Linked DNA regions of Homo sapiens: all the other regions are linked to region 2. The links come from fine-mapping of genetic effects on gene expression. A gene starts in region 2. Each other region holds a variant in brackets. All regions are shown on one strand. Distances are between the middles of the regions.

Region 1 (8,276 bases), 890 kb after region 2:
TTTGTTGCCCAGGCTGGAGTGCAGTGGCACAATCTAGGCTTACCACAACCTCTGCCTCCCAGGTTCAAGCAATTCTCCTGCCTCGGCCTCCCAAGTAGCTGGGATTACACGCATGCACCTCCACGCCCAGCTAATTTTGTGTTTTTAGTAGAGACGGTGTTTCTCCATGTTGGTCAGGCTGGTCTCAAACTCCCGACCTCAGGTGATCCGCCCACCTCGGCTTCCCAAAGTGCTGGGATTACAGGCATGAGCCACCGCACCCAGCCTCTCATTTTCTTTTTTTAATTTTAATAGTGTTAGGGGTATAAGTTGTTTTTGCTTATGTGAATAAATTCTATATTGGTGAATTCTGAGATTTTAGTGTACCCATCACCCAAGCAGTGTACATTGTCCCCAATATGTAGTCTTTTATCCCTCACCTCCTTCCTACCTTCCCCCTTCATTCTCCTCCCCAAAGTCCGTTATATCACTCCAAAACTTAGCTCCACTTACAAGTGAAAACATACAGTATTTGGTTTTCTATTCCTGAGTTACTTCGCTTAAAATAATGACCTCCAGCTCCACCCAAGTTGCTGCAAAATACATTGTTTTTTATGGCTGAGCAGTATTCCATGTTGTATATACACCACCTTCTTTATCCACTCATTGGTTGATGGACACTTAGGTTGGTTCCTTATCTTTGCAATTGTGAATTGTGCTGCCTATAAACATGTGTGTGCATGTACCTTTTTCATATAATGACTTTTTTTCCTTTGGGTAGATAGCCAGTAGTGGAATTTCTGGATTGAATGGTAGATAGATGGTAATCTACTACTTTTAGTATTTTTTTTTTTTTTTTTTGTCTTGAGACGGAGTCTTGCTCTGTCGCCCAGGCTGGAGGGCAGTGGCGCAATGTTGGCTCACTGCAACCTCTGCTGTCCGGGTTCAAGCGATTCTCGTGCCTTAGCCTCCCGAGTAGCTGGGACTACAGGCACACGCCACCACTGCCAGCTAATTTTTGTATTTTTAGTAGAGACGGGGTTTCACCATGTTGGCCAGGCTGATCTCGGTCTCTTGACCTGGTGATCGCCTGCCTTGGCCTCCCAAAGTGCTGGGATTACAGGCGTGAGCCACCGTGCCCAGCCCGATGGTGTATTTTGATGGGAATTGCATTGAATCTGTAGATTGCTTTGGGCAGTATGGCCATTTTCACAATATTGATTCTTCCTATCCATGAGCATGAGATATCTTTGTTTGTGTCATCTGTGATGTCTTTCAGTAGTGTTTTGTAGTTTTTCTTGTAGCTGTCTTTCACCTCCTTGGTTAAGTATATTCCTAGGGTGGGTTTTATTTGTTGTTTTTGCTGTTTACAGCTGTTGTAAAAGGGATTGAGTTCTTGATTCTCAAGCTTGGTCGTTGTTGGTGTAGTGCTACTGATTTGTGTGCATTTATTTTGTAACCTGAGACTACTGAATTTGTTCATCAGATCTAAGAGTCTTTTGGATGAGTCTTTAGGATTTTGTTTGTTTGTGTTTGTTTGTTTGCTTGTTTTTGATGGAGTTTCTGTCACCCAGGCTGGAGTGCAGTGGCATGATCTCGGCTCGCTGCAACCTCCACCTCCCGGGTTCAAGCGATTCTCCTGCCTTACCCGAGTAGCTGGGACTACAGGTGTGTGCCACCGCACCCGGCAAATTTTTGTATTTTTGGTAGAGACAAAGTTTCACCAGACCATGGCCAGGCTGGTCTTGAACTCCTAACCTCAGGTGATCTGCCCATCTCGGCCTCCCAAAGTGCTGGAATTACAGATGTGAGCCAACCGCGCCTGGCCTAGGGTTTTCTAGCTGTATGATCGTATCATCAGTGTTACAGCACTAGTTTGACTTCCTCTTCTCCAATTTGGATGCCCTTTATTTATTTCGCCATTGGCTTTTGGTTGTGTAAGAGTGTGTTGCTTAATTTTCACAAATTTGTGAATTTTCCAGTTTTCCATCTATTATTGATTTCTAACCTCATCCCATTGTGGTTAGAGAAAATACTTAGTGCAATATGTTTTTTTAAATCTTGTTGGCCAGGCGCGGTGGCTCATGCCTGTAATCCCAGCACTTTGGGAGGCTGAGGTGGGGTGGATCACCTGAGGTCAGGAGTTTGAGACCAGCTTGGCCAACATGGTGAAACCCTGTCTCTACTAAAAATGCAAAAATTAGCCGGGCGTGGTGGTGCACCTCTGTAATCCCAGATACTTGGGAGGCCGAGGCAGGAAAATCACTTGAACCCGGAAGGTGGAGGTTGCAGTGAGCCGAGAGAGTGCCACTGTACTCCAGCCTGGGCAACAGAGTGAGACTGTGTCTCAAAAAATAAATAAATAAATCTTGCTCCAGAGCCTGGGCTAGATAGTAAGAGGACAGTGTGGATGCAGTTAAGAACCATATATGTCTGAATTTTTTGTACATGTTCATTTTGTTCCCTTCACCTTCAAAATTAGTAACAGATGGCTGCATTTTCTCAAGGGATCTGTGTGGCTTTTAAATCTAAATCATCCACTTACAGGACATTTGCAAAGCAAGAGGTTTTAGTCCCCATTTTCTTTCTTTTTTTTTTTTTTTTTAGTAGAGACGGGGTTTCTCCATGTTGGTCAGGCTGGTTTCGAACTCCCGACCTCAGGTGATCCGCCCACCTCGGCCTCCCAAGATGCTGGGATTACAGGCATGAGCCACTGTGCCCGGCCTAAGTCCCCATTTTCTTTTTTCTTTTTTTTTTTTAAATGAGACAATTATTTATTTTAGGCAGATAGTCAACTTAAAAATCATTCAGCGTGGGCACTCCTGAAACTGTCAGGATCATGTTGGTTTCCTCGCTGTTTGCCGGCTATTGGCATTTGTGTCATCACACACAGTCCGATGAGGTGACAACAGAAAAGCATATCTCACTTCTATCGTAGGTTTCCATTCACTTTCGGGTTCTCAATCGCCCTGTGTTTCCTCAGTGATACTCCAGACTTTCCAGATGTTCTGGTTGACCCATTCCTCTTTCTTTTTTTTTTGCAAAACAAAGCAAAAAGCAAGAAGAGAACTTTACATTTTGTCCAATAGTCCTAAGAAATTTTCCCTGTAGAGAATGTCATCTAAGTCAAAACAAGGGTTGAATAGGGGCACCCAAATCAGTTATCACTTAGGGCTGTTATAAGAAATGCCAAGACTGGGTGGCTTAAACAGCAGATATTCGTCTCTCACTGTCTGGAGGCTACAAATCCAAGATCAAGGTGCTAGCATGGTCAGTTCTGGCGAGGACCTGCTACTGGGCTCAAGAGCACTACCTTCCCCCCCGTATCCTCACATGGTCGGTCTCCAGCCTCTTCTCATAAAGGCGCTGATCCCATTCATGAGGGCTCCACTCTCACAGCGTAATCACCTCCCAAAGGCCCTGCCTCCAAATACTGTCACACTGGCATTAGGATTTCAGCATAGGAATTCTGGGGGGACACATTCAGTCCATGGCCTCCCGTACCTGTGAATGTGATCTTATTTGGAAATAGGGTTTTGTAGGTGAAATTAAGTTAAGGATCTTGAGATAAGATCATCCTGGACTTAGGGTGGACCCTAAATCCAGTGACTAGTGTCCTTATAAGAGAAAGAAAAGAGAGATTGGAGACACACAGACACCGTGGAGAAACGCAGGAGAAAAGGTCCTGTGAAGGCAGAGAGGCAGGGACGGGAGTGACCCAGCTGCAAGACGAAGAACACCTAGGGCCAGCAGTAGCTGGAGAGGCAGGGGCGAGGGCGATCCTCCCCTAGGACCTAGGGAGAGAGCGTGGCCCTGCTGCCACCTGGATTCTGGATTTCTGTTTTGAGCCATCACGTTTGTGGCAACTCACCCTGGCAGGCTTAGGAAACGAATGCGTTAACCCATTGCATTAGCGCACAAAATAACACCCTGACTCGTTTCCTGCGCCAGCCTCCTACCTTGCCTTCTACTTATTAGACCCTACCTCTCATTCCCCATTTTTTAAAATTTTTATTTATTTATTTATTTATTTATTTATTTATTTATTTATTTATTTATTTTGAGGCAGGGTTTCACTCTGTTGCTCAGCCTAGAGGTGCAGTGGCGTGATCATGGCTCACTACAGCCTTGACCTCCTGGGCTTAAGCAACCCTCCCACCTCAGCCTCCCAAGTAGCTTGAACTGCAGGTGCATGCCACCCTGCCCAGCTAATTTTTTTTTTTTTTTTTTTTTTTTTTTTTTTTGGAAAGACGAGGTTTCACCATGTTGCCCATGCTGGTCTCAAACTCCTGGGCTCAAGCAATCCTCCTGCATCATCCTCCAGAAGAGCCGGGATTACAGGTGTGAGCCCCCACGCCTGGCCTCTCCCTCCTTTTTATCATTCCCTCTTCCCTC[G/A]TCTTCCTTGGCTTTCCTCCTCACACCTCCTGCGTTTGGCCCCCTTCCATTTTCTTTTCTGCTTCTCTTTCCCAACTTCCCCCTCATCATGCCAGGGGGACTCCTGGGCTGCGTGCCACCCCCCTGGAAGTCCCCCATAATGAAGCAGGATTTATGCCTCACACTTCACCATGGGAGAGCAGAAACCTCTCACTTGAAGCAAAAGGCACTGAAAATAAGCAAATAGTTATGCATTTGTCACTACCGAGTCCTAGCTGGCTTCCACCCTACCCCCCGCCCCCCACCATCTTCTTGCTCATTCAGGTCATCGTGTTCTCTGATACCCAGTAACTTCCATCATTTTCTACATGCATTTCTGTTGGTCTTCTGAGAATTGTGATTTTCCAAAGTAGAAAGGGCACATCGTCTTTTTGGAGCCTCAAAGGTGCAGACACTGATGCGTTGGGGGAGATCACAGTGTGACAAGGATGGGGTGGGAGTGTGTCACCCCCCTTTCTACCGACCCTCAGCAGTGGGGAGAGAGCAGAGGAGATGGAACCTGAGAGGAAGAAGAGATTTCCAATTACTTCCTTCTCGGTCCCTTCTCCACTGAAGCCTGTTACTCCTCTGCTGCCGGGGCCTCTTGAGTTTTCTCTCACTGAGCCAGGAAAGAGCTTAGTGAATAAAGAACAAGGTATCCCAGCAATGCAGGGAAGATGTCCAGGACAGTGAGTGTGAACGAGGGGTCCTGGAGAATGTGCACGCCAGCCCTGCAGGAGAATGTCCACGCCAGCCCTGCAGCCTGGTGGGCTCTGCCATCAGCACCCCAAAACCATTCATCAGTCACCTTCGACAATTGCACGTGCAAAAGCCCTCTTTTTGTGTCCTTTGAAGCTTTTTTTTTATCAGGCTGGGTGCGTGGCTCATGCCTGTAATCCCAGCACCTTGGGAGGCCGAGGCGGGAGAATCACTTGAGCCCAGGAGGTCGAGGCTGCAATGAGCTATGATCATGCCACTGCACTCCAGCCTGGGTGACAGAGTGAGGGCCCATCCCTTCGCGGGTCCCCATTAAGAAAATGGGGGAGGGACAGTCCCCATTTTCTTAATGGGGACTTTCTTAGTGAAATTTGAAATGAGAGATTATTAATATGAGCTGGGCCTAACATCTTTTTTTACTTGCAGTTGGGGCAGAGCTCCAGGGAGTTGGTTTTGTCCCCTGCTGTCTTGTCCCCTCCCCCTTTTTAATTAATTAGGGCCTGGCTGGACTCACATGCAGGCCGCTTTCTAAGAGCAGCAGTTACTTTGGCAGCATTCAGAAAGGGCCTCAGTTACTCTACCATGACAAATTTCTCAGTCTGTCACCGTTCACTTCCTAAAAGAAATTCATTGTAGAAGGTAGAATGGGATCTTCATGGCATTTCTGATTCACAATGCTCCTGAAAGTTCCTCGGCATGTGGAAAGGCCACAGATGAATTTAAGCATGTGAAAGAATACTCATGTCAGAGGCACAAAGGAAACTTGCCCCGAGTCCACGGTGCTCTGCGGTTAGGAGCTGGCCTCACTGTGCACAGGGGGAGGGGTGGTGAGCTTACCGGGCTTTAAAGCGCCCTTCCAACCTGTGAGCCCTGCATTCCTTACCCTTGGTTGGATTCTTCCCGGGCTGGGAGAAATGACCGCTTCTATGAGGAGACCATGTGCCGAGGTCGTGTGCTAGGAAGCCAGTTGCTGTGAGAAATGACCAGTGTCATGTCTGTCTTTCAGCCACCCTACATCATGTAGCAGTTCTTCTGAGATCATGTCTGTGCTGTTCTTCTACATCATGAGGTACAAGCAGTCAGATCCAGAGAATCCGGACAACGACCGATTTGTCCTCGCAAAGGTATGCCGGTGGGGAGCCCAGGGCTGCTGTGGCGCCTGCTGGTTAAGCCCAGTTTGAACAGCCACCGTGTGGGAACAAGGCCTGAAATGGGCCTCGTTTATTATTTTGGTTCTTCTTTCTTTGCATCTTAAAGCTCGAGTGTTCTAGTGAGGGCCACTTGGAGCCCTGTGATGGCATGGTAGGAAGGGTGGCTTGGGAGAGCTGACTGTCCTTCCTTTCCTTTGGTCACACCCTGCCTCGCCCCACTTAGCACGAACGCTTCCCCCATGGCAGGGTTATGCTGCTCCCACCCTCTGTGCTGCCTGAGGAGAGGCAGGCAGCCTCAGTGAATCCCACTCACTGAGCCTGGGGGAACTTGAGTGTAACCGGGAGGGACATCCCACCCCTGTCAGTTAGCTTCCTCTTCTATGTTTCTGCACATCTGACCTGAAACTGATGGGCACTTCTCATGAGATTGGGCAAAATACCAGCCACTTCATGAAGTATCATGGGTGATAGGAAAGAAAAAGAACCTTAAAAACAAGGTCAGTTTGAGAATGTGTGGCTGGTTTGATGCCATCTCAAAGTACACTGTGTCCCGAAGCAAATTAAAACCTGGCTAGGGGCCGGGTGCAGTGGCTCACGCCTGTACTCCCAGCACTTTGGGAGACTGAGGTGGGTGGATCACTGGAGGCCAGGAGTCCGAGACCAGCCTGGTCAACATAGCAAAACTCCGTCTCCACTTAAAAAAAAAAAAAATTAGCTAGGCATGGTAGCACATGCCTCTAATCCCAGCTTTTCGGGAGGCTGAGGCACAAGAATTGTTTGAAGCTGGGAGGCAGAGGTTACAGTGAGCCGAGATCGTGCCACTGCACTCCAGCCTGGGCGATAGAGCAAGACTCCATCTCAAAAGAAAAATCTGGCTGGGTAGAGTACTGTGTCCAAATAGAAATGCCAGATTAGCACAGTGGGAAGTGAAGACAAAAACTGGGCATAGCTGAAGTAAGTGCCTAAAGGTCATAATTGTGACCCTTGTCTTGGTGTCTGAACCATAACATCAAATGGTTTGGCAAAAAATAAATAGAATTTACATGTGTACGCGCATGTGTGGAGAGAGGGATGAAGTAAATGCCTTCCATTGCTTTCAGTTGGTTATTGGAGGTAAGCAGTATACAGGAAGGAAATCATTGTGCTAGGCTTTAAACATGTCTATAAACTTGAACTTTTTTTACATCTTTTTTTGTTCTTTTTTTGGGGAGGTAGAGTCTCGCTCTTGCCCAGGCTTGAGTGCAGTGGCTCGGTCTCAGCTCAATGCACCCCTGACCTCCTGGCCTCAAGCGATCTTCCCATTTCAGCCTCTTGAGTAGATGGCATTACAGGCATGTGCCACTACGACCGGCTAATTTTTGTATTTTTTGTAGAGACATGGTCTCACTATGTTGCCCAGGCTGGCCTCAAACTCCTGGGCCCAAGCGCCCACCTCTGCCTCCCAAAGTGCTGGGATTACAGGCAACAAGCCACCGCTTCCAGCCCTCTTTACAATGAAAATTGAAAAAAAAATAGATATATAAACGCAATATGGGTGTTTAGATTTCTGGTTTAAAATAAGGAAAGGCTGGGTACAGTGGCTCACACCAGTGCTTTGGGGGCTCCAGCAGGAGGATCTCTTGAGACCAGCCTGGGCAACATAGCAAGACCCCAGTGTCTACAAAAAATACGAAAATTAGCTGGGCGTGGTGGTGCGTGCCTGCAGCTACTCAGGAGGCTAAGGTGGGAGGATCACTTGAGCCTTGGGAGATAGAGCAAGACCCTGTCTCAAAAAAAAAGAAAAATCTAGACTGTCATATAACAGCTGCTATCAGAGCCATTGGCCTTAGGGGATGAAGAGGCTTTCTATCGGGCAGCAGCACACCAGGCCCTGTTCGGCTGCCAGAATTTGTGTGTTCATCAGATTTAGCTGGCTGATGAAATTGGAACAAAAGAGAAAACACATGAAGCATAGTCCATTGTGGTTTGCCTGGGAACGGGGTAAACAGCTATACTCCAGGCAGAGCAGATCTTTAT
Region 2 (8,276 bases):
CACAGAGGAGGGGCCTCTCTTTCCTTGAGCAGGAACAAGGAAGCACGTGATCCCAGCGGACACTGACAGACATTCTCTAGCACACAGGCAGCAGCCTGAAGCCAGAGCCAAGACTTGAGGTTGGAAAGAGGCTGGGGCCTGGGTGACAGCTCAGGACAGTGAAGCCACTGGAGGGGGCACCATAAGGATAGCTGTGGCCACACTGGGAGGGATAGTTGAGAAACAGTTGTGATCAGACTGGGAGAGTCAGTGAAGGGAGAGGGAGGCCGTCCTGGGAGGGACAGTGAGAACGGCAGTGGCCACACTGAAGAGGATCAGCAGAGGGCCAGTGGTGGCTCCCCTCTGGGACATTCAGGAACCGGAGCCACAGCTGCAGCCATGAGAGAAGCTGCCACTCAGGCAGTGGACGGCCACCTCCTGGGGCAGGTGCCCAGCTGAGCTTCAGGGCCTCAGGCTTCTGAAGGCCAAGACAGCCTGCCCTGAGGCCTGGGCATTGCTCCCTCCTGGCACCCAGGCCTGACACTATTGCCCCTACCGGCCTCATCCTGAGGGTCCCATCAATCCTCAGGGGTCGCAGGGTTGGACAAACTGGCCCACATGACACAAGGCATTCTCCATGCCATGAGCCACGCAGTACTCCGACCCTTCTGCAGGGTCAAGGAGCAACCTGCGTGACCTGAGGCATTGCCGCGTGCATTCCATCCCCTGCTTTCCCCAGAGCCACTGTCTCCTGGGACTGCAGCCTGGACATCCCCTCCCCCACTCACTGGCTGCACCCCATCTACAGCACTTTTCTGGCAGGGGGGCGGAGGCAGGAGTTGCAAAAACAGCTCATCCAGTCCAGACACACATCCTGTCCCCACAGGAGCTCACAGTCGCCATCACCCTCAGTGGATATCTGAGGCTGGCAGCATATTCCCAAGGCTCTGCATGCAGCCCAAGACCACCTCCCTCCAAGGGCACTCCAGCAGAGCAGTCAGCCACAGCCCAGCTGACCCCTGGGAGAGGTGCCGCCCTGACCCCTGCCCTGCTGTGAAGGTGGCTTACAGCCCCCTTTGGCCTGGCCTTCCCCAACTTGCTCACTCACTTCCCACAGACAGCTTGACGTCACCCTGGACCTCCCTGCTGGGCCCCTGGGCACCTGCTGTGGCTTGGGAGACCGGCTGCCAACCTGCCCCCAGGAGGGGGCTGCCTGTGACCTGGCGGGTGCCCACGGCACAGTGGGCAGCACCACAGCTGTGGGAAAGCGCCCACTCCCCTGCCCCCCGGCTACCTCACCTGCCCGTCCTGGGCCAGCCTAGGGCAAGGGGAGAACGGGAGACCAGAGCTGGGGAGCAGCCAGGCCAGCCGGACTGTGAGAGGGCTAGGTGTGGTGGGAACCCAGGGAGGAAAGGGGACCTCCCCACTTCCAGACCCCAACTCTTCCTCCCCAGGTTCTGAATCCGGGTTTGCTGCCCGGGAGGCCCTGCCCCTGCCTAAAGCAGAGATGGAGATACCTCTCTCAGGAGGCCCCAGGCCTCAGGGCCACAATAAGGGGAGTGGAGAGGAGGAGAGAGGGCCGTGTGAGGACCGCCGGGAGGGCCCGTGTGCCCTGTCATCCTCTCTAGGTTGGGCATGGGTTTGCAGTTCTTTACAGTAAAAAACTGAAAACATGCTGGAAGGGAGATTGATCTCCCGACAGGATCGTGGGCTTGTCAAGGTCGTCTTCACTTGCTCTAGGCGTCGCGCTCTTCAGCTGACCGCGCTGCCGCCTCCACCACCAATGTGTCCACACACGCGGTGCCAACAATGGTGCACACGGTGACCCCTGCTCCCCCATTTCTAAGCTTGTGTGGGACCCGCAGCCCAGTGCACATGGCCCTTTCTCTTGCAGTGGAAGTGGGGTGCACTCCCAGGGGCCCCCTTCCCCTGCCCGAGGCACACACTCCCCAGCCTCCATGCAGGTTGGCCGCTCACACTCTCTGGAAATGAGCCAAGGACAACAGGAGCTGCCTTCCCAAGGTCGCCCCAGTCCCCACCAGGTTACTGGATGATGCGGGTGCAAAGGTCCCCCCGCCCCCTGCCTCCATGGCCCAGGAGGACTCTGGGCTCAGCCTATTCCCTCGTGTCGGAGTGGCCTGGGCTGCCGCAGCAAATGACCACAAACCGCTTGGCTTCAGCCAACAGGAATTGACTCTCCCAGTTCTGGAGGCCGGAGTCCAGAATCGGGCGCTTCCTCCGGTGGCTCTGGGGGTGGATCCACCCACCTCTTCCAGCTTCTGGGGGCCCTGGGCACTCCCCACCTTCGCCTCCACATGGCCTTCTCTGTGTCTCTCTCTCCTGTCTCTTCTAAGGAAACTGTCCTTGGATTTGGGGCCCCCTGGATCATCTGGGTTGCTCTCATCTCCACATCCTCAATTTAATGACATCTGCAGACACCCTTTATTTGCATATAAGGCCCTGATCACAGTGCCTGGGTGTTAAGATATGGATGTATCTTTCAAGGGGCACCAACCAGTCACCCCACAACATCTCAACAGCCCAGATCCCAGCCTGCCCAGCCAGAGCCCCGGTGAAGGGACAAGCTTGGGCACCAGGACACACAGCTGAGGGCCACCGGGAGACTCCCTGCCTCTGCGCCGGGAAAGGGGCTCCGAAGCTCTCCCTGCACTGGGCCCCCTGGGGGCCCTGCTCCCTGCAACCGGAGGTTCCCTGAGCAGCGTCCTCGCCCTTCCCCTATGCCCCAGATGGACGGCTTTTGTTCTGGGAGCGCAGGCTTGCCGAGGGCTCCTTGCTGCGGGCTAAGTGCTCCTGGCCAGGGCCCAGGGTCTCTGAAGAAAAGAAACCCCTGAACTCTGGTTCAAAGGCCAAGGAGGCTCCCGCCTCGTGCTCAGTTCCCAGTGGCCGGGGCTGGGATATGTGATGTGGCTGATTTTTCCCTGTTGCTTTTCTTTTACGGTCTTTTTCATACGCTTCACTATTTGTCAAAGGTCTCACAATTGTCATCAGAGCAATATCCCAACCAACCTTGGATTTCACTCCCTGCTCTACCACGTGGAGCATGACCCTTTGGAAAATGACAAACTCCAGGTGCGATCCCCTCCGGTAACCTGAGGGAAAGCCAGATGCACCCAGAGGGTCTTGGCTTCTTGCACTTCCCTGACCTCCTTTTTCCCCTCCTCGTGTCTCCACACCATGCTCCCTGAGTCACCTTTCACCTCTTCCCCGCTCTCTGATCCTTGCCATCCTGGGTCACTCCTTTACTGAGTGACCATGGCCGGGGTACTTGGTGCTAGCTGCCCTGCAGAGGTCCCGGGGACCCCAGCGAGATGAATAACTGAATGAATGGACGTAATAACGCCCAGGGGTCTAGCCCATGGGAGGTGTTCTGCCAACGCGGGTCCCTCCCGTCCCCTTCAGGAGCCGCGGTGCGCTGACCACTTCGACCCCAGCCTTCAGAGCAGCCCAGACAGAAAGCGGAAGTGCCTCGGGGCGCGTGGGGAGCCAGGCCAGACGCCCCTGTGGGGCGGGCGCGGGGCGGGCCGCCATCCCTCTGCGCCGCGCATGCTCCATGCCCCCCCCACAACGCGCCCCGTTCCCACGCTGCCGCCGCCCCGGCCCCGCCCGCTCCCGGCCCGCTCGTCGGCGCACCAGACTGAGACTCCCCTTCAGGACGCTCTTCGCGAGCGGTACCCAGAGGCGAAGTCGAGACAAGCCCAGGAGCCCCCACCCCCCGCCCGCGTTTCCTGGGGACGCGGCCTCGGAGGGCTTCTAGGAGGAGGCGGCGGCCTTGGCCTCGGGCCTGCCGGGAGCAGGAAGGGAGGCCGACTCCCTCGGCTGCCCGCCGAGCCCAGGTAAGAGGGCCGAGCTGGGCCGCAGGGGTGCGGGTAAGCGGGTAAGGGGCCCGTCTCGGCAGGGTGCAGGTGTCGAGGGGGACGAGGGAGCTGCGGCGGCGGCGACAAGCAGGGACTCCCTGGGAGGCGGGCTAGCACTGAGTGGCCGGACCAGCCCTCGGGGCCGCCCCGTACCAGGGGCGCCAGGGGAAGAGCCATCCAGGGCTGGGCGCTGGGAGCTGCGGCCCGTGTCTGTCAATTTCTCTCCTGATTGGTTTCCAGCCACCGGTCCCGAGGCTGGCTAAAGAGCATCCTGTCGCTGATCTGCCTGGTGAGTTTGGATTTTGCACCTCTGGGTGTGAGAGTGCTGGGCAGACTGGCATTGTGAGGTTGTGGCACCGCTGCCCAGGCACCGGCCCTGAGGGTCTCCAGATCGGGGCAGGATGCCCAAAATTGTGCTCCAGAGGGTATCAGGTGGGGGCTGGTGCCTCGCGGTGGTGCGGGATGTTGACCAGGTGACTGGCATGCCACGGAAAAGCATCAGCTTAGCCAAGCCAAGGAGGAAGCGAAGGGCCGATGGAAGTGGTGGGCAAGGGTGAGAGAAGGAGCCAGCTGAGCTGGGCAGAAAGCGGCACCCAGCGCTTCCCTACAGGGCTAGTTGTGACTGATTCACTCCCACAGATACCTCCTGAGCAAGCATTTGAGATCTGCCAGGGACACGGCGGTAGTAAGCCCTGCCCTGTTGTTCTCGTTCTAGTGGCTGAGCGCAGACAATAAGCAGAAAATGTTTTCCATTAGTAATTACAGAGTCTGTTAAAAGGCAGTAAGAGCCGGGGAAGGGAGGTCTGGTTGCCAGTTTAGGTGGTTAGAATAACTTATTCTAGAATAAGTCTCATTTCTACCAAAACTTGAAGGTGGTAAAAGAGCGAGGCATGTGGTTATGGTTTTGGAAGAGCATTCTAGGCACAAGGAATCCCCTGTACAAAGGCCCTGAGGCAGGGGTGGCCTGGCTCAAGGGAGCAAGAGTGTGGCAGGAGCAGAGGGAGGTGCAGAGGTGGGAGGAGGGTTGGGCAAGGTCAGGAAGGGTTGTGTGAGTTTACTCTGAGTGACACGGGCATCCCAGGGATAACTGTGAGCAGAGAAGGACAGGACCCGACCCGCCTGTTAGAAGGATCCCTCAGCGAGCAGCCTGGGTGGCCCCCTTTTGGCTAGGTTACCCTCTGCCCCCAGAGGGCAAGGCCTGCCCAGCTGCAAGGAAGCTCCTCAGAGGACTTTTTCAGGCTAGGCTGCATGGAGGGCCCCGGTCGACCCATGCAGCACCCAGGCCGGGCCTTGGCTCTGGGTTTCTCCAGTTTCCTTCTCCAGCCGTTCTGCCAGGTGGGCAGCAGGTGACTAGGGCCTCGGGCCAAGGAAAGCTGATGGGGCTGAGAGAAGCAAGATCCCCCAGGACGGAAGAAACCCAACCAAAGTGGTGATGCCTGTCCCTTGCTGTGGATGAAAAAGCCCAAATTCCTGCTCCCACCGAGTGGGACTGCTGGATGCTTTTCTGATTGTTGTTTGTTTGTGTGGGTTCTTTTTTCTTTTTCTGGGAATATCTCCCCATCTAGTGGTCGTCTTAAGGCATCCTGCTAGAGCCAGCTCTCCCCTTGGTTGGCCAGGCTTCCTTGCTGGCAGTGGCCCTGCTCTCATCCCCTTCCCAGCCCTCCCCGCGTGGAGCACCCTGCATACTCAGTTCCACCCATAGGCTAAGGTCCGCAAGCAGGGGTCCCGGGTCCGAGGCCCCTCACAGAGGTGGAGCAGCCCTGGAGGGGCCGGCAGTGGCACCGGTCACCCAGGTTGATGGGCCTTTCTGGCTCCTCACCTGAGGCGCCAAGGTCTGGTGGATTCTCACCTGTGTGCCCGATGCTGTGCCTCGGGGAAGCCTGGCTTCAGAGCCCAGGATTATCCTTCTGCTTGGCCTCTGCTCTGCTGGTCCCCAAAGGTCACAGGGTCTTGCTGGTCCAGCTGGAAGAAGCTGCTCTCTAGTTCCGCCAGGTGCCTTCCAGGTGCTTCTGTCCTCAGATGCACGGAGTAGTGCCCACCTGGGTGTTATTTGAGTTCTATGGGCACAGGGTTTGTCGTGTCTTTCTTTCCAGGAGTTGAAATTGTAGATGATTTTCGGGAACTAGCTCTCAAGGACAGGCACTGCTCTGGGTGACGGCTTGGTGTGGCCAGCACCTCCGCTGGGTCTTCCGATGCTGCACTTGAGTGCGGGTCTCCGTCTCTGGGCGGCCTCCCGCCGATGGGGTGTTCACTCAGGGGGTCACCACTCAACAGTGCTCTGCTCCCTTGGGGCTCAGACCTGCCTCAGTAATCTTGGGGTGGAGGGACTAGAGATAACTCCTCCCCCTTTCAACTTGTCCAAAATGGGTAGTGAACTTTCAGTACTGTTATGGTAAGGAAAAAAATGAGCTTATGCTGCTTTTCAAAACAATAATTTTATACTAGTCTGAAAGCACTGGCAAATTATCAGTAATACCTCCCCACGCACCTTTAGTTTTGCAGGGGTCCCAGTGACTGACAGTGTGTTATAATGAAATGAGGTGTGGCCTGCGGACATTAGAATGATTTTACCTACAGGAACATTTCTTTTCCCTCCTTTTTGATTGAGGTGAGATTCACACAACATAAAAATTAATTTTTTGAGACAGAGTCTAGCTTTGTCGCCCAGGCTGGAGTGCAGTGGTGCAATCACGGCTCGCTGCAACCTCAACCTTCCCAGTTCAAGCCATCACCCCACCTCAGCCTCCCAAGTATCTGGGACTACAGACACGCGCCACCACACCCAGCTAATTTTATGTATTTTTTGTAGAGATGGGATCTCACTATGTTGGCCAGGCTGGTCTCCAACTCCTGAGCTCAAGTGATCCACCCACCTCGGCCTCCCAAAGTGCTGGGATTATAGGTGTGAGCCACCACGCCCGGCCAAATTAACCATTTTAAAGAGAACAATTCAGAGGCCATTTAGTACATTCACCATGTTGTGCAGTCACCACCTCTACCTGGCTCCAGAACATTCTCATCGCCCCATAAGGAAACCTCTAGACCCATTAGCACTCACTCCCCATCCCCCCACCCCCGGGCACCCACCAATCTGCCTTCTGACATGATGGATTTACCTGTTCTGGACAGACATGTTTTATGAGAGTTAAAGGTTCTTTGGATGACAGGACCCTGGGATAGATGAAAGGCACAGCTTTTTGTTCTGTATAGCTCTGAACGAGAGAAGGCTGCCAGGCAGGGCCACACAGAGGTTAGACCCGGGGACCGGGAAACAGCAGCTGGGGCCGGAAGGGGCCAGCAGAGGCGGGTGGCTAGGTTTCTCCAGCTTCCTTTGGATTGATTGAGTTGCATAAGTTTTCAGGCTCCAGGACATAGGGGCTGTCCCTACTTGTCTGGTGCCTGGCCCCAGAGTGTGGGGGCCCAATGAGGCAGGGGCCGTTGGAGTGTGTGTTTGGTGGCCCCAGAGAGAGGGAAATTGTAAGAAAAGTGGTGGGAGTGGGGACTTAGCAAACTGCCCTCGAAGGGCATAGAGATGAGAGGTTTTAGCCACTATTTCAAAACTAGGTCAAGACGGCTCTTGGGAAATGTGATGTTACATCACAAAATGGAATCATACAATATGTGACCTTTCAAGTCTGCATCTGGCTTCTTTCACTGAGCAGTGTCCTCAGGGTTCATCCACATGGTAGCATGTGTCAGAATTTCCTTTCTTTCTATGGCCAAATACTTTTCCATTGTATATATAGGCTCATGGTGTTGGTCCATCCATCCATCGATGGACATTTGGGCTTCTTCCACCTTTCGGCTCTAGTGATTAATGCTGCTGTGAACACAGGTGCGCAAGGGTTTGTGTGAACCACCTGTTTTCAATTCTTTGGGGGTATATACCCAGAAGTGGAATTGCCGGGTCATATGATAACTATGTCTAACTCATTGACAAGCCACCAGTCTGTTTTCCATAGTTTTTTTTTCTTTTTAATCACCATCTTGCCTTTTTTGTGTCAGCTTTTCTCTCTTTCTCTTTGTGAAAGGTTTTAAAGTAAGTTGCATGCCATTCCCTCCCCCAAATGCTTCAATATGCATTTCTTTAAAAGGGACATTTTCTTCCATGACCCAGTGCCACTATCCATCCAACACATGAGCAGTTATGATCCCCTACTTCCTTCCGAGGGCCACCCCATAATCACCCTCTCCCAATGATCCCTAATCCCTTTGACGACTCTCTCATTTACGCCAGCATCTCATTGACGACCCCTCTTGCAGTTGGGTGTTGGACCCCGTAAATCTCTTTTCATCTAGAACAGCCTCTCTCCCCAGTCTCCTTTCTCCCCCCATGACACTGATTTGCAGAGGATACGGGACCCGTTGCTCTATGGAACAGCCCCTTTCTGGGTCAGGCAGGTTGCTTCCTTGTGGTGTCAT
Region 3 (8,276 bases), 22 kb after region 2:
GTTCAAGCAATTCTCCTGCCTCAGCCTCCCGTGTAGCTGGGACTACAGGTGCCTGCCACCACACCCGGCTAATTTTGTATTTTTAGTAGAGACGGGATTTCACCATATTGATCAGGCTGGTCTCAAACTCCCAACCTGATGTGATCCACCTGCCTCAGCCTCCCAAAGTTCTGGGATTACAGGCGTGAGCCACCTCGTCCAGCCACCTGGCTGATTTTTTAATTTTTTTTTTATAGAGATGAGGTCTCATTATGTTGCCCAGGCTCCAAGATTTTTTAAGTACCATTTTCTGAAAAGGGCTTCTGACAGAACCTCACCAAGAACCAGATCTGCTGGCACCCTGACGTTAGACTTTTAGCCTCCAGAACTGTGAGAGCTCAAATCAAATCAAATCAAAATAAGAAAGTAAGAATTAAATTTTTTTCATTTTTTTCAATGAAAATATTCCTCGCCTACTATATAATGTATTCTAGCTGGTTACATGAGAACAAGGTGAGAGGAGGTAGAGAAGGACAAAGGAGGAAAGAGGAAAGCACAGGTGAGAAGGAGAGCAGCTTGACTGCAGTGACTGAACACTCAGATCACAGGGTCTCCTCTGGTTATGGGAATGGGATGCAGGAAGAAACAAACACAGTATATCAGTTAGGAAAGTGGCCACAAAAGTAGTAGAAAACCTAACTATGGTGGATTAAAGAATTAGATGCTTTGTTTTCTCACCTAAGGACTCTGGGGTAGCTTTCTGGCATCGGTTCAGCAGCAGAGCTTTTGGCAGTACGCAGCATCTTTCTGATTTGCTTCGCTTTGCTGCGTGATCACAAAATGGCTGCTGAAGCTCCAGCCATCACATATGCATTAGACAGAAGGAGGAAGGGGCAGAGACAGACACTCTGTCCTCTTTTATCAAGGAAGCAACAGTTTTCCCAGAAACTTGCCTGGCAGACTTCCACTTAGATCTCAGGAGCCAGAACTGGATCATGCGGCCACCCCTAACCTCAAGAGAGGCTGAGAACGTTGGGAATGGGATGGATTTTCATGACCTATCACCTGGGGCTGAGCCCACTGATGCCTTGAACAAAGTTGGGGTCTTATCCCCAGAGAAAAAGGTTAGGATGCAGATTGGGTGGTGTTATGAGTCAAATTGTATCCCCCAAAAAGGTAGGTTGAAGTCCTAACCCCCAGTACCTCAGAATGTGATCATGTTTGGAAGTAGGGTCGTTGCCGATGTAAATATTTAAAATAAGGTCATACCGGAGTAGGGCGCACCCTTAATCCAATATGGCTGCTGTCCTTACAAAGAGAGGAGAATGCCATGCAAAGGAACAGACACACAGGGAGAAGGCCATGTGAAGACAGAGACAGGGATAGAAGTGATGAGGCCACAAGCCAAGGAACACCCGGGGCCACCAGAAGCTGGAAGAGGCAGAAGGACCCTCCCCTAGAGCCTCTGGAGGGAGCGCAGCCCTGCCCACACCTAGATATCAACCCGAGGGCCCTCAGCTCTTTATGCCTGAACTCTGGGAGGCTGGGGGTGAGGGAGAGAAGGCCAGCCTTGCTCAAGCCCCTCCCACTGGCCGGCATCCTGACTACCATTTACAGATGTGAAAACTGAGGCTTAGAGATGGGAAGGAATTGTCTGGAGACTCAACACTAGGAAGCGGCGACAGATTCATGCCCAAGTTCCAGGACTCCAGCATTGCTGCTCACTCCAGCCAATCAGGGAGAGCAGCTGTGTGAACTCTGCCCCCAAACTAAAGGGAATCCAGTCGCCTTTACCATTTTCCTAACTTCGCCCATTTGGGGGGATGATTCCATAAGTTGGCCATAACCAAACATAAAAATCATTTGATTTTCTGGAAAAGATTGTACAAAAGGAAAGAAGCCAAAGGTTAAATCCTGCCTTGGAATTGGGAAAGCGTTTGGTCATCCCCCTCCCCGCCCTTGCACCATATAGGTTCTCAGCTGGTGAGACCCTCAGGAGCGCTGGGGCTGTGGGCCCTGGAGCCCTGCCACCTGCACTTTCTTCCATCCCTTACCCACAATTGCTCACTCCGGATGCCATGCACCTTCGTTTCCTTTCTGTAAGACTGAGGGGGCCAGGTGTGGTGGCTCACATCTGTAATCCCAGCACTTTGGGAGGCTGAGGCGGGTGAATTGCCTGAGGTCAGGAGTTCGAGACCAGCCTGGCCAACATGGTGAAACCCCATCTCTACTAAAAATGCAAAAATTAGCCAGGTGTGGTGGCGCATGCCTGTAGTCCCAGCTACTTGGGAAGCTGAGGCAGGAGAATCGCTTGAACCCAGGAGACGGAGGTTTCAGTGAGCCAAGATCACGCCACTGCACTCCAGCCTGGGCGACACAGCAAGACTCCATCAAAAAAAAGAAAAAAAGGAGAGAGGGAGAGAAAAAGAGAGGAAGGAAGGGAGAGAGGGAGGGAGAGAGGGAGGGAGGGAGGGAGGGAGGGAAGGAAGGAAGGAAGGAAGGAAGGAAGGAAGGAAGGAAGGAAGGAAGGAAGGAAGGAAGGAAAAAGCACCACAAACCAGGTGGCTTAAAACACCAGAAATTTACTCTCTTATTGTTGAAGAGCCAGAAGACCCCTCCCTTGCCTTTTCCAGCCGCTGGTGGCCCCGGACTTCCCTGGGTTGTGGCTGCATCGCTGCAATCCCGGCCTCAGTCTTCAAGTGGCCTCGTCCTCCCACTGTGTGCCTCCACTCTGCGTCTCTCCTAAGGACACTTGTCAATGGATTTAGGGCACACTCCAGTAATCCAGGATGACCCTGTCTCAAGATCTTTAATGTAATTACATCTGCAAAGACCCTTTCTCCAAATAAGGTCACACTAAAAGGGGGCAGAGATTAGGACATGAACACATCTTTTGGGGGCTGCCTTCAACCCAGCACAGGCAGGAACAGGCTTGGTGTGTTTGAGGCCTGTGTGGCTGGAGGCCAGTGGGCCTCCCAGGGGCAGTGGGGAGGGATGAGGGTGGCAGGGCCAGGGACAGCCATATAGGGCTCGGAGGGCATGACAAGAAGTGCAAGGGCTCAGACATAACAGGAGCTGTCACCGTAGCTGACATGCACTGCACATGTGCTATGTGCCAGGCCCCAGGCATGACCCACCCTCCCAGGATCATTGTATTGTTTCCATTTTACAGATGAGGAAACTGAGGCCAGGCTGTGAGGTCATTTCTGCCAGCCACAGGGTTGGGCAGCTGGGGGGTGAGGCCTGGCACCCAGGCTGTCACCACTAGCTGAGGCCCCCTCCCAACGGCTTGGGTGCCTTTCAGCCCTGGACCTCGAGGGAGGGAACCACAAACGCCAAGTCCTCCTCTCCGCCCCAGGGGACCTGGGAAATGCCAAGGGTTCTTTTGCCGGGCTTCCGGGTTCCCTGGCAGGAGGGGGAATGCTGTACGTGCTGGATTTCCAGGTTGGAAGGAGACTTTGTAAACCTTTTCAATACAGCCCCGCCAGGCTTACGGCCCAGGGAGGTGTGTCTGCAGGACCCGGACACATCTCTTTGAAATGCAAACATAAAGCTAGCGCCCCTAGCTCCCTGCCTTCCTGAGACCACCAAGAGAAAGCTTTCATTTTCCTTTGGATACAGGCAACTCACTAGCGCAGAATGGCCAGCTGCTGACCAGGTGCACTCACGATGGATGAGGACATGCAGCAGGGCATCTTGAGATGGCATCTGCCTGACTAGATCAAAGGGTAGCTGACATGCACTGCGCAAAGGATGAGGTTTCCTTCTCGGCCTGTGATGCCCATTGCAGCTGAGCTCACCTTTGTCTTCTTTCCCGCATTGTGGAGAGGGCTCCCCGGGCTGGCAGGACCTCCAGTCTTCCCAGTACATGCAGGGGTGGAGCGCCCAGGGTGGGGAGCAGGGTCCAGAGGTGGGAGGGGCTGAGCGGAGGCCATGGATCCGGGGCCCGGGGCGAGGATCAGCCTCCAGCTACCCGGAATGCGCTGGGCCCCTGGAGGTACCTGGGTGACTGACAACCCAGGAGCCTGGGGCTTCCGCTGGGACTGTGGCGACTATCACACCTCACGCCACTTAAGGGGTTGTCGCTGCTTCTACAAATCCAGCTAGAAACAAGAAGATGGAAATTGGGAGGATGCTGGCCAGAAGACAAGAAGTGAGGAGCAGGGGCAGAGGACAGACGGGTCAGCCCTTGACTGAAGAAGGCCTCCCAGAGGAGGCAAAGGCCCGTCTCCACCTCAGGAGGGCTAGCTGAGCTCCACTCCAAACCGGATTGTCATGGACCTGGGCTTTGCCTGACAAACATTCCCAAGCTCCCAAGACAGCAGGAGCATCTCAGAAGCTTCCAAACAGAAAGAACCAGCAATAGCAGAAATGGATCAGAGTGGGCCAGCTTCCCTGTGCGACTCTGGCAGCCTGTGGATCCTCATCCTCACCCAGCAGGGAAGGAAAGCAAGAATCCTTGTGACCAAGCAGGTTAGCTTCAAAATGCATTTTGATACTCGGGAGGCTGAGGCAGGAGAATGGCGTGAACCCGGGAGGCGGAGCTTGCAGTGAGCAGAAATCGCACCACTGCACTCCAGCCTGGGCGACTGAGCGAGACTC[T/C]GTCTCAAAAAAACAAAAAACAAATGCATTTTGAAACTTCGTCTTTCCTTTCTTGCTTTCAGCCTTAATGTACTTTGAAACTCCTTGTTTCCCTCCCTTCCCACCAGACACTCCCTTGCACTGCTCACTCACCTAATTTTGTGCTTACTTAGTAGTTCCAGGGCGCTAATCTTGAGACAAACCAAGCATGGAAATCTAGCTGTGAAATTCCAGGCGGTCAGTCTACAACCCAGCCATCGTAGAGATGATGCCAGCCCGTGCTCCCAGTGGACCATGACTCAAGATAGCCAAGGGAACAAGGCACACAGACCTTGTGCCCAGTGCCCCGCCTGCATGTCTCCCATTCCAAGCTCCCTTTTACTCCTCTCGCCCACATAAAGCTTGAGATGGTTCCTCTGAGGCTTGAGCCTGGCCAGCCCGGCCATTCTCCCACCTGCTAGCACTCGAGTAAAAGCTGCTTTCGGCCAGGAGTGGTGGCTCACGCCTGTAATCACAGCACTTTGGGAGGCCAAGTTGGGTGGATCATTTGAGGTCAGGAGTTTGAGGCCAGCCTATCCAACATGGCGAAACCCTGTCTCTACAAAAAATACAAAAATTAGCCAGGCATGGTAGTGCGAGCCTATGATCCCAGCTACTCAGGAGGCTGAGGAAGGAGAATCACCTGAACCCAGGAGGCGGAGGTTGCAGTGAGCCGAGATTGTGCTACTGCACTCCAGCCTGAGTGACAGAACAAGATTCTGCCAAAAAAAAACAAAAAACAAAAACGGCTTTCCTTTCACCACACCTCGCTTCTTGTATTCTGGCCTCCAAACAGCAAGCAGCCAGACTTGAGTCGGTTACATTCTGCAAACATCTGCTCACTGCAAAGCTGCAAGACCAAACAACCCCTGCAACAGAACAGAGGCCTCAGAGAGGAAGGGGCGGTGGGCAGCCACCTCACAAAGTATGCGCTCAATTGAAATAAGTGATGACAGAGGGGCTGGCTGGGCTGGCTGTAAGGATCAAGTACAGATTCGTGGGTGTTACGCACGAAGAAAATTCCAGAGAACAAAGACCAGACCGTGCTATAGTGACTGGGAAGGTAAAGTTTATGCATCAACCTGGCCAGTCTACAGTACCCAGTTTTGGTCAAACACCAGTCTAGATGTGGCTGTGAGGGTGTTTTTAAATAAAATTAGTATTTAAATGAGAAGACTAAGTACAGCAGATTGTTCTCCATGCTGTGGGTGGGCCTCATCCAATCAGTTGAAGGGATTAAGAGAAAATGACTGAGGTCACCCAAAGAGGAAGGAATTCTGCCTCCAACTCGAGCCTTTGGACTCAAACAACTCTTCCCTGAGTGTCCAGTGACTTGCCAACCTCCATGTCACGTGAGCTGATTCCTTAAAATCTCTCTCTCTCTACACACACACAAACACACACACACGATATGATATATATCATATACATGGTGTGGATATAATGTGTATTTTTGGTGTGGTTTTTTGGGATTTTTTTTTTCTTTTTTGAGACCGAGCCTTGCTCTGTTGGCCAGGCTCACCACCACACCCGGCTAATTTTTGTTGCATTTAGTAGAGACAGGGTTTCACCATGTTGACCAGGCTGGTCTCGAACTCCTAGCCTCAAATGTTCTGCCTGCCTCAGCCTCCCAAAGTGCTGGGATTACAGGCATGAACCACAGTGCCTGGCTATAATATGTATCAAGTATTTGTCAGTATATATGTGTCATGAGTATATGTGTGTTAGAGCGTGTGTATATATATATGTGTGTGTATTAATACAGTTGTAATGCAGTAAGCACAAACACACAGCAACTAAATGCATAAAGAAAAATGACTAGACATGAAGGAAGACTTCAAGAAAATGCAATTACAATGGAATGTTCTAATATATTGTCATTAAATCAGACAGATATAGTCAACAAAAAAAAAAACAAGTAAAAATGTAAAGGAAATTGAATAGTACAATTGTCAACTAGATTTTAGAGATATATAGAAAAGCCTGCATCTCTGAAGCAGGTGCATTTTTCAGAGTCTATAACATATTTTACAGTTATTTATGTATTCGGCCTCTGTTATCCATTGAATTGTGTCTGCCTCCCTCCTCCCCCTAAAAAAAGATATATTACAGCCCAAACCCCCAGTACCTCAGAATGGAGCCTTATTTGGGGATCTTCACAGAGGTAATCAAGTTAAAATGAGGTCATTAGGGTGGGCTGTAATCCAATATGACTGTGTCATTATAAAAAGAAGAAATGTGGACACAGCGCCTTGTATGCAGGGAGAAAGAGGGCTGTGTGAAGATGAAGGCAGAGATTGGGGAGAGGCTGCCACAAATCAAGGAACACCAAAGATGGCCAGCAAAGTCCCGGAAGCTGGGGGAGAGCCTGGAATAGATTCTCCCTCACGGCCCCCAGGGGGAACCTTGCCCTGCCAACACCTCGATCTCTGACTTCTGGCCTCCAGATCCGAGAAACAGTCCATTTCTGCTGTCGAAGCCCCCTAGTTTATGGAACTTTGCTATGGCATCCCTAGAGAACTCAAGCAGCCCCCAAACTACCTTAATTCGAAAAGGTGATATTTTAAGCAACACATCCTCAGATTATTATCCAATACAACTAAAATACACAACAAAACATGACTGGCTGGGTGTGGTAGCTCATGCCTGTAATCCCAGCCCTTTGGGAGGCCGAGGAGGGTTGATCACTTGAGCTCAGGAGTTCGAGACCAGAGGGAAACATGGCAAAACCCCATCTATACAATAAATACAAAAATTGGCAGGCTGTGGTGGCGCATGCCTGTAGTCCCAGCTATTTGGGAGAATGAGGTGGAAAGATAGTTTGAGCCCGGGAGGCGGAAGTTGCAGTGAGCCAAGATTGCGACAGTGCATTCCAACCTGGGTGACAATGAGACCCTGTCTCAAAAAAAAAAAAAAAAAAAAAAGATCATGAAATCATAATTACTCAGAAATTAAGATAAACTGCAGTATATAAGCATGAGATCAAGAAGGGAATGGAAAGCAAAATTACAAGCTATTCCTAAAGCAAAGCAAAGAAGAATGTTTAATAGCAAACCTATAGGACACAGTAAAATCTGCATTTAGCGATAATAAAGTGTCAAGCTTATTGATAGATACAATTTCAACACCAAACGCATCACTGGCCATAATGTTTAGGGTACAGATTGAATACACACTTTAATTTAAAATACCCGAATCACTCAAAAGATACTAATAAATCAAAGTTTTAAAAGATTCAGCTGGGCATGGTGGCTCACACCTGTAATCCCAGCATTTTGGGAGGCCAAAGCGGGCAGATCACCTGAGGTCAGGAGTTCGAGACCGGCCTGGCTAACATGGCAAAACCCTGTCTCTACTAAATATACAAAAATTAGCTGGGCATGGTGGCATGCGCCTGTAATCCCAGTTACTCGGGAGGCTGAGGCAAGAGAATCGCTTGAACCCAGGAGGCGGAGGTTGTGGTGAGCCAAGATCGTGCCATTGCATTCCAGCCTGGGTGACCAGAGCGAAACTTCATCTCAAAAAAAAAAAAAAAAAGATTGGACACTTCCCTTTAAACATATAATTACCTCTAAAAACTATCTGTAGCTTTGGAATATGAAAGTATGAAATTGTATTCACCCAGCCAATACTATGCCCACATATACTGCTGCTCCCTATTGAAATAGGAACGTAGT

Which allele goes with the higher level. Alleles are on the strand shown, and positions count from the first base shown. SD is a standard deviation of normalised expression in the study named. Not every link is listed here.
With allele C in place of T in region 3, the expression in tibial artery of the gene that starts at base 3,602 in region 2 is lower (small effect, 0.29 SD a copy in GTEx).

The links. PIP is the estimated chance that this variant, and not a neighbour inherited with it, causes the effect.
Region 1: its variant is fine-mapped to the expression of ZFP92 in cerebellum (GTEx, PIP above 0.99).
Region 3: its variant is fine-mapped to the expression of ZFP92 in tibial artery (GTEx, PIP above 0.99).

What each region holds. Positions count from the first base shown.
Region 1 is chrX:154,299,189-154,307,464 of GRCh38, forward strand. It overlaps TKTL1 (transketolase like 1), which reads left to right. Exons shown (of 13, transcript NM_012253.4): 2 at 6,116-6,233. Among named protein-coding and RNA genes, the nearest start is that of TKTL1, 7.5 kb to the left of the region's middle. The variant G/A (reference allele first, on the strand shown) is at 4,375.
Region 2 is chrX:153,407,871-153,416,146 of GRCh38, forward strand. ZFP92 (ZFP92 zinc finger protein) reads left to right here and starts at 3,602. Exons shown (of 6, transcript NM_001136273.2): 1 at 3,602-3,833; 2 at 4,095-4,143. It also overlaps a transcript of PNMA6E not described here. RefSeq lists silencers at 3,398-3,647, 3,708-3,847, 3,910-4,120.
Region 3 is chrX:153,430,169-153,438,444 of GRCh38, forward strand. No RefSeq gene overlaps it. Among named protein-coding and RNA genes, the nearest start is that of TREX2, 12 kb to the right of the region's middle. The variant T/C (reference allele first, on the strand shown) is at 4,582.